Regions from separate parts of the Homo sapiens genome. Here regions 1 and 2 are each linked to region 3. The links come from fine-mapping of genetic effects on gene expression. A gene starts in region 3. Each other region holds a variant in brackets. All regions are shown on one strand. Distances are from middle to middle.

Evidence for each region. PIP is the estimated chance that this variant, and not a neighbour inherited with it, causes the effect. A credible set is the group of variants that fine-mapping cannot tell apart.
Region 1: its variant is the best candidate, but not a certain one, in a credible set for the expression of ZNF594-DT in whole blood (GTEx, PIP 0.75).
Region 2: its variant is the best candidate, but not a certain one, in a credible set for the expression of ZNF594-DT in blood mononuclear cells (TOPMed, PIP 0.81).

What each region holds. Positions count from the first base shown.
Region 1 is chr17:5,232,132-5,234,889 of GRCh38, reverse strand. It overlaps SCIMP (SLP adaptor and CSK interacting membrane protein), which reads left to right and starts at 30. Exons shown (of 5, transcript NM_207103.3): 1 at 30-155. The coding sequence starts at 135. All of the region lies in intron 5 of ZNF594-DT (ZNF594 divergent transcript), which reads right to left. The variant C/T (reference allele first, on the strand shown) is at 1,138.
Region 2 is chr17:5,254,219-5,256,976 of GRCh38, reverse strand. No RefSeq gene overlaps it. Among named protein-coding and RNA genes, the nearest start is that of SCIMP, 21 kb to the right of the region's middle. RefSeq lists an enhancer at 1,954-2,459. The variant A/G (reference allele first, on the strand shown) is at 1,558.
Region 3 is chr17:5,190,834-5,193,591 of GRCh38, reverse strand. ZNF594-DT (ZNF594 divergent transcript) reads right to left here and starts at 1,585. Exons shown (of 6, transcript NR_152840.1): 1 at 1,429-1,585. ZNF594 (zinc finger protein 594) reads left to right here and starts at 1,724. Exons shown (of 2, transcript NM_032530.2): 1 at 1,724-1,844. RefSeq lists a silencer at 1,590-1,789.

The DNA of each region.
Region 1 (2,758 bases), 41 kb before region 3:
AGAAAGGGGAAGTGGTCAGGATGGGGCTCACTGTCTCTAGCAGTGGGTGAAGGCCTGTGAGTGAGGAATGCCTCTCACCAGCTGTGCCTGAGCTGCAGCACTCCAGCCACTGCTGTCTCCTTAGCTGCTCACATATGGATACTTTCACAGTTCAGGTAAGCATCTCAGCTTTCCAAGGGACAGTTTCCTGCTCTCTTCACAGCAGACATCTGCCAGCGCTGGCATCAGGGCGTGTCCCTGGGAGCCACCGATCAGCACTGGGCCAGGGGATTGCAGCCTGGGGCCCTGGTACGACTGCTGTGTAGGGTTGGAGAAAAACTTGCATTGAAGGATCTGCTCTACTGGTAACTGGCTGAGTGACCTGAGGCATCACTTCACCTCTCTGGGCCTTTTCCTCATGTGTATGTCAGGGGCGATGAAGAAGTCTACCTCTTGGATTGAAATGAGATAATGACCGGGAGTGAGAGGTCTCAACTGTAACGAGTTACTCTCACTTTCTGGATGCCGATGGTGTGTTTTGGGACTTGTTATGTGAGAAGACTGTCATGGTGCTATGCTGGAGGTGGGGGTGGGAGCGAGGCACTGACTGTGTCAATTTATTTATTTTTATTTTATTTTGAGATGGAGTTTCGCTCTTGTCGCCCAGGCTGGAGTGCAGTGACGTGATCTCGGCTCACTGCAACCACCGCCTCCCGGGTTCAAGCGATTCTCCTGCCTCAGCCTCCTGAGTAGCTGGGATTACAGGCACCCGCCACCACACCTGGCTAATTTCTGTATTTTTAGTAGAGACGGAGTTTCACCATGTTGGCCAGGCTGCTCTCGAACTCCTGACCTCAGGTGATCCGCCCGCCTCGGCCTCCCAAAGTGCTGGGATTACCGTAGCATGAATTTAGGCTACGTCTTGGGGCTCTTGGATGAAAGACCTGGATCACCTCCAGTCTTGGTACCTTTGTCATTGCATCTCTGGCTTTCAGTAGTTCATTAGGCACCTTCCCTTCCAGAGGCCTCGAGATCAAAGTGTGTTGGGCTGGCGTGAGTTCTCGGTGTAGCCATCTGCTTTTGCCCTCTGGAAAATTATTTTGAGAAGAGATCTGGGTTTGGCTTTGCCATATCCACTCCCACTGCCTGGTGTGTCCA[C/T]TTGTCCCTGAGGTCTTGGCCATGAAGCAATGTGGAGCACAGGCTTCACTCTGCTTCAGTGGTAAATAACTACTGAGAGGCAGGCGGGGCATGGTGGCTCACGCCTCTAATCCCAGCACTTTGGGAGGCCAAGGTGGGCAGATCACAAGGTCAAGAGATCAAGACCAGCCTGGCCAACATGGTGAAACCCTGTCTCTACTACAAATACAAAAATTAGCTGGGCATGGTGGTGGGCGCCTATAGCCCCAGCTACTCGGGAAGCTGAGGCAGGAGAATCGTTTGAGCCCGGGAGGTGGAGGTTGCAGTGAGCCAAGATTATGTCACTGCACTCCAGCCTGGTGACAGAGCAAGACTCCATCTCAAAAACAAACAAACAAACTACTGAGAGGCTTAAAGCAAGGAAGGGACAGGGTCACACTGGTATTTGGCAGCCAGTGGGGAGCCCAGTGGGGGCTAGGGGCCAGCGAAAATGCAATGGTCCAGGTACAGAGATGAGGACTTGGACTACATTTGGAGGCTGATGGGCTGAAGCGGGGTGGGGATGGGGCCATGGGAGAAAGAGGAATGAGGCAAGGTTTCCGGTCTTTTCCAGAAGTGAAAGTATAGAGAAGGGAAGAAGAGAGGCTGGACTCCTTTTAATGACCCTGCCGTGCACTTCCCCATGCACACTTGGGTTTTAAGTTGCCAGTGACTATCCACATGGCCATTTCTGGTGCTGACATCAGTGAGAAGGACAAGTGGAGCGAGGCTCAGTGGCTCACGCCTGTAATCCCAGCACTTTGGGAGGCCGAGGCAGGTGGATCACTTGAGGTCAGGAGTTTGAGACCAGCCAGGCCAACATGGCAAAACCCCATCTCTACTAAAAATACACAAAAATTAGCCGGGTATGGTGGTGCGTGTCGGTAATCCCAGCTACTCAGGAGGCTGACACAGGAGAATAGCTTGAACCAGGAAGTAGAGGTTGCAGTGAGCTGAGATTGCACCAGTGGAGTCTAGCCTGGGTGACAGAGCAAGACGCCATCTCAAAAAAAAAAAAAGAAGAAGAACGAGTGGGAACAAGGCCTCACTTAGCATGAACAGCAACAGTCGGGGAATTAGAGGTGAACTGGGGCAAGAACTGCTCATGCCAACCGGCCTAAATGTTCTCTACAGCCTCTCAGACCCTCGAGATCTAGACTGAGATTAGTTCGAACCCTCATTCCAGGCCTGCCGAAGTCCAAAGCCCTCCCCAGGACTTCTGTGGACTCCCGAGGAGCCCACCTCTTTTTCCATGGTCAGCAATGGGCCTGCAGCCTCTGTGGGTAAAACTGTTTACACTGCGCTGTTTACACTGCACTGTTTGCACTGTTTATACTGTTTATACTGCACTGTTTATACTGCACTGTTTACACTGCACTGTTTATATTCCACCCCTTTCTTAGTCCCCCACACCCCTAGAACAAATCTGCTCACAAAAGAATTGGCAGATGCAGCAGACTTTACCAAAGACTCAGCGGGGGACCACCAGAGGGGCTTGTAACGCATCAGCGCAAACAACTGCACACAGAACATAACACGGCGCTGCTCTGAAAATGTCTTTGCCAGCCCATCCCTGAGCATTTTCTATCAGCTCCTCCTCTTG
Region 2 (2,758 bases), 63 kb before region 3:
TTGAGATAGGGTCTCACTCTGTTGCCCAGGCTGGAGTGCAGCAACTTGATCATAGTTCACTGCAGCCTCCAACTCCTGGGCTCAAGTGATCCTCCCACCTTAGCCTCCTGAGCAGCTGGGACTACAGGTGCATGCCACCACACTCAGCTAATTAAAAAAAAAATAGAGACAAGGTCTCAAAATCCTAGGCTCAAGCAATCCTCCTGCCTTGGCCTCCCAAAGTGCCAAAACTATTCTTGATCCCAGCACAATGTGTGACCCAGAGTAGGTCCTTAATAAATATTTGTTCAGGCCGGGAGCGGTGGCTCACACCTGTAATCCCAGCACTTTGGGAGGCCGAGGTGGGCAGATCACGTGAGGTCAAGAGTTCGAGACCAACCTGGTCAACATGGTGAAACCCCATCTCTACTAAAAATGCAAAAATTAGCTAGGCGTGGTGGCAGGCACCTGTAATCCCAGCTACTCAGAAGGCTGAGGCAGGAGAATCATTTGATCCCAGGAGGCGGGGGCTGCAGTGAGCTGAGATCACGCCATTGCACTCCAGCCTGGGTAACAGGGTGAGACTTTGTCTCAATCAATCAATCAATCAATCAATATTTGTTCGGTGAGTTAGTGAGTGAATGAAGGCATTCAAGATTAGGAACTTGCCAGTATGCCCAGCCTTGCCTCACCTCATCCCGGCCCCCAATGCCATTTCACCCTAAGTGCCCAATATCCAGACTGCTTACTGCTCCCTCAGAGTCTTCCCAGCCCATCTGTCCGACCCTGGCACACCTCTCTCAGCTTATTCCTACAAACCCTTTGGGACTTGAGTGTGAATGGAATCTTTTCTAACAAACCTTCCCTGACCCAACCTCTGCCAGATCTGGGCTGAAGACCCCTTTGGAGCCCTTTTCATATTGTTCGTAATTTTTAGTTTTATTTTTTGGGGCCCACTCCTTGAAGGCAGGATGTAGGTCTGCCACCAGAGTTTCTTTTTTTTTTTTTTTGAGACAGAGTCTGGCTCTGTCCCCCAGGCTGGGGTGCAGTGGCACAATCTCAGCTCACTGCAACCTCCACCTCCCCGGTTCAAGCGATTCCCCTGCCTCAGCCTCCTGAGTAGCTGGGATTACAGGCATGCGCCACCACACCCAGCTAATTTTTGTATTTTCAGTAGAGACGGGGTTTCACCATGTTGGTCAGTCTGGAGCCACCAGGGTTTCAATGAATATTTGCTGGATGAATAAATAAATGGAAGAAAGAATGAAACAGTTGGCTTGGGCATGGTATTCAGGCACAAGTTTACTATTATGATGTCAATCAAAGGCTCGCAGATTCCTCATTAGGTAGAATAAAGTTTACAGGAACCCATCCCTTACTGATGTTAGTCATTTTTCAAGGCTCTAAACTTTGCCTCTGGCCTTGGTTTTGGCACCCATCTTTCTCTGGACCAAGCTGTCTCCTACCACACACCCCTCTTCTCCCTTCCCCTTCTCTCTGTCATCAGATTGCAAGCTTGTACCCTGAGGGCTGTCTCAGGCAGCAAGGATCTGGATCTACAGGCTTGGTGAAGGCACA[A/G]TTCCTAGTCTCTTGCCTTGAGCACACACAGGAAGTCAGCCACCCAGCCACAGTTATATTTAGATTCCTGTCACCTGATGGGGTCATCTGTTAATCAGGGCATAGTGGTAGGTGCAGCATTTTGGGAGTAAACTGAGGTAGGACCAAGGTAGAGAGGAAGTGAGCAGAAAAGTCAGGTACTGACTCCAGGCTCTTTGGCAGGATGAATATTCATGGCTTACATTACACCTAGAGAGATAGAAGGCAGACCAAAGGAGGAACTTGACTTGAGAGAGAAAACAGTTCTTGGCTTGGGCAGGGTAACGGTGGTGCCCCTGAGAGCAGCAGGAAGAGCTGGCCCCTTGGGGCCTCTTGCAGTCCTGAAGGCCAGTTGGGTGCAGGAGCAGGAGCACGGGCCCCTTTGCTGAGTGAGCGGGGCCGAGTGAGTGGTTTTTTTCCATAGGCAGGAATACCCAGCTGCGGTCAGCAGAAAGAGCTGTGGTCACAGGACCCTGTACACAGGGTAGAAACCAGAAAGAAGCAGACATAGCAGGAATTTTTTTTCAAGCTTCCAAGAGCCTTCTCTGCCCTCGATTTGGTTTATCAAATGACTGCTTTGGGAGCTGGGGGACGGGCCCTAAATTGTCATGGATCCAGTTGCTTCTCCCTCCTTTTCTTTTTCTAACCTCGCCTTCATTTCCAAATGACCCCCTTTTATTTCTAGAATCCACCCCCACCACTATAGTAGGTACCTTGCAAGGAGCTCCTGCCCACACTCCTTTCTTTGGCATCCAATCCATTCCAGATCCTGCTGACAGTGTTGGCTTCCCACAACCCACTCCTTTCTGAAATGCTCGGGTGCTGGCCCATCACCGGGGGATCGTCTACACCCCTCCGTCTGGCTTCTGAGTTCTCCATGTTCTGACTGACACTCACCCTTCCCAACCCCAGGCTCACCTTTCTTTCTTTTTTTTTTTTTTGACAGCTTTATTGAGTTATGATTGACATGAAATAAACCGCACCCATGGCCAGGCGAGGTGGCTCGTGCCTGTAATCCCAGCACTTTGGGAGGCTGAGGCGAGTGGATCACAAGGTCAGGAGATCGAGGCCATCCTGGCTAACATGGTGAAACCCCGTCTCTACTGAAAATGCAAAAAATTAGCCGGGCGTGGTGGCATGCGTCTGTAAACCTAGCTACTCAGGAGGCTGAGGCAGGAGAATT
Region 3 (2,758 bases):
TTTTTGCCTCCCAGAGGATCCCGGTGTCTTAGCTGTGGATCTCTCAATACTTGCAGGTCACAGGGCCACAGAGGCTGGGCCTCTAGGAGCAGAGGACACGGAACAGTCTATTTTTTTTTTTATTTTTTTGAGACAGTGTCTTGCTCTGTTGCCCAGGCTGGAGTGAAGTGGTTCCATCTCGGCTCACTGCAACCTCCACCTCCCGGGTTCAAGCTATTTTCCTGCCTCAGCCTCCCGAGTAGCTGGAACTACAGGCGCCTGCCATCATGCCAGTTAATTGTTTTGCATTTTTAGTAGAGACGGGGGTTTCACCATGCTGGCCAGGCTGGTCTTGAACTCCTGAGCTCAAGTGATGCGGCCTCCTAGGCCTCCCAAAGTGCTGGGATTACAGGTGTGAGCCACCGTGCCCTGCCTTAAAAACCCATTTCTAAATTCCAAAGAGTAACTTCTATTAGTGCACTCTTATTAAGAGAGGTAAAGCAAAAGGAACTATAAAAGCAACTATAATTGAAGTCTATTTGAGACATGGCTCAGTATTTCAATGAAAATGTAACACAGTCAATGAAATACTATCTCAAATGTAGTTGTGCAAATTAAGGAATAGTTGGTAGTAGCTGCATTTACAAATTCAAGAGTGAAACGTGCATAATTCGTGCAACCCAAAGTTTGGGACAGAGAGATATGAGAAGCCAAAGTGACTAGTGCACTGACAGTTTTGCTTCGGAAAGGCTTGGGGTTGGACATCTTACATCTTTACATACATATATAACCCTTACCACGATCCTACGCTACGCGAACCAACATCATCTCCATAGTAATAACTAATATGTATCTGGCCTTCGCCACATGCAAACTTCACATACATATGTCAGTGAGGTCGGTCCTATTATTTACCTCACTTTACAAATGAAGCAACGGAGGCGCGAAGAAGCTATTAATAGGTAACTTGTTCAAAGTCACATAGCCCCTAAGTGGTGGGGCAAGGATTCTGAGTGTCTGACTTTCTCACTTCGGAACTTACACTTTTAAACATTAAGCTGTCCTTGTTGGGATCTGTATCGCCTAGCCTTTGACCGGGCATTGCAAATAGAAGTCATCAATGAATGAGACCACAAATGCATGCAGGGAACAATAACAAAAGATGAAAACAGAACAGGCAGAACAGGAGTTCGAGACTAGCCTGGCCAACATGGCGAAACCCCGTCTCTACTAAAAATACAAAAATTAGCAGGGCGTGGTGGTGGGCGCCTGTAATCCCAACTACTGGGGAGGCCGAGGCAGGAGAATCGCTTGAACCTGGGAGATGGAGGCTGCAGTGAGCCGAGATCGCGCCATTGCACTCCGGCCTGGGCGAAAGAGCGAGACTCCATCTCAAAAACAAAACAAAAGGGCAGAACAAAAACGTAGTTACTTGAAGGGGTCACTCACCCCGGACCCGACCGTGCCACAGCCCCGACGCCACGCATGTCTAGGACCAGCTGAGGACGCGGCCTCTCGGCGGTAACCTTGGTAACCAGCCAGCGCGCCGCTGGCCCTCCGGAAGTCAGACTCCGCCGGGCTGAGCCGAGCTACGCCAGCGCCGACTGGCGTCGTGGAGGAGTCTGCGCAGAGGAGACACCTGATCCGGTGGGAGACGGCCAGGGGAGCGCGCGCGGATTGGCTGGAGCCGACGGGGGACGGCTGGGCGGGGCGCGGACTGGGGGACCGCAGTCCCGGGGAGCGCACCGGAAGTTCTCGCCTGGCCCAGGCGCGGGGTCCAAGATGGTGGCGCTAGGAGCCGCGACCCAGTGATAGCGGCCGTGGAGGGGCCCCCGACCGAGCGGGAGGTTGGGGGTAGCCTGGAGGTGAGACCCCGCTGCGTTCACAGAGCTGGCGGCCGCGGCGCCTGCGTCCACCGGCAAGCGAGGAGTGGAGCAGAGCTCATATGCCTATGGGGAGAGGCCTGGGGGACCGCAGGAGGATGTAGGCGCCGGGTGCGCATGACTGGGCCTTCTTGCTCTCGGTCGGCTTCTTGGTCTCGGCGTGCCCCATTCCCGGCCCTGTCCCGCTACTCTTGCCTGTTCCAGTTCCCTCCTGTGGGTACCGCTAACGGCATCTTCCCGAGGCCCAGAATCCACCGTCAGGCATAAATTGATTATTCCTCGCCCACATCTGTGCCAGGTATATTTGTATATGTAACCAAATCTGGTTTTTGCATCCCACGAGTGACCCCGCTGGGGAGGCTAGACTAAGCCACAGGAATGAACTGTATTGTTCATATATGTTCTACTACTCAGTCTAAAATATTAGGACTGTTAGAGTTCAAACAAGGGAGGGATTTAGGTGGGCTGGTCTCTTTGTAAGGGTCTACATTGCTTTTAGGAGCAGCTTCTATTGTGACCAAGCGAGTTACAGAGAAACGCCACACTTTGAGACAAATTAAAGAGTCCTTATTAGCCGGCAACCGAGAGGCAGCTAGCGCCCAAAATTTTCTCGGCCCTGAGGAAGGGGCTAGTTTTGTTTTTATACCGTGGTCTAAATAGGGGAGGGGGGATTTTAGCTGAAGCAATTTTTACAGAAGCAGAACTGGCAAAAAGTTGAAAAATTAATTGGTTACAAATGCAGTTACAAAATATAAACAGTTCCAATTGCACGGGCTTAAACTATCACAAAGAGATAAATGCAGGGGTTTTGCTTGCCATCCACCGAGCGCGTCCCCAGGAGCTGCTGGTGCAGCTTGCCTCAATATCTTATCAGTAGGTGCATTCCTGGACGTGCT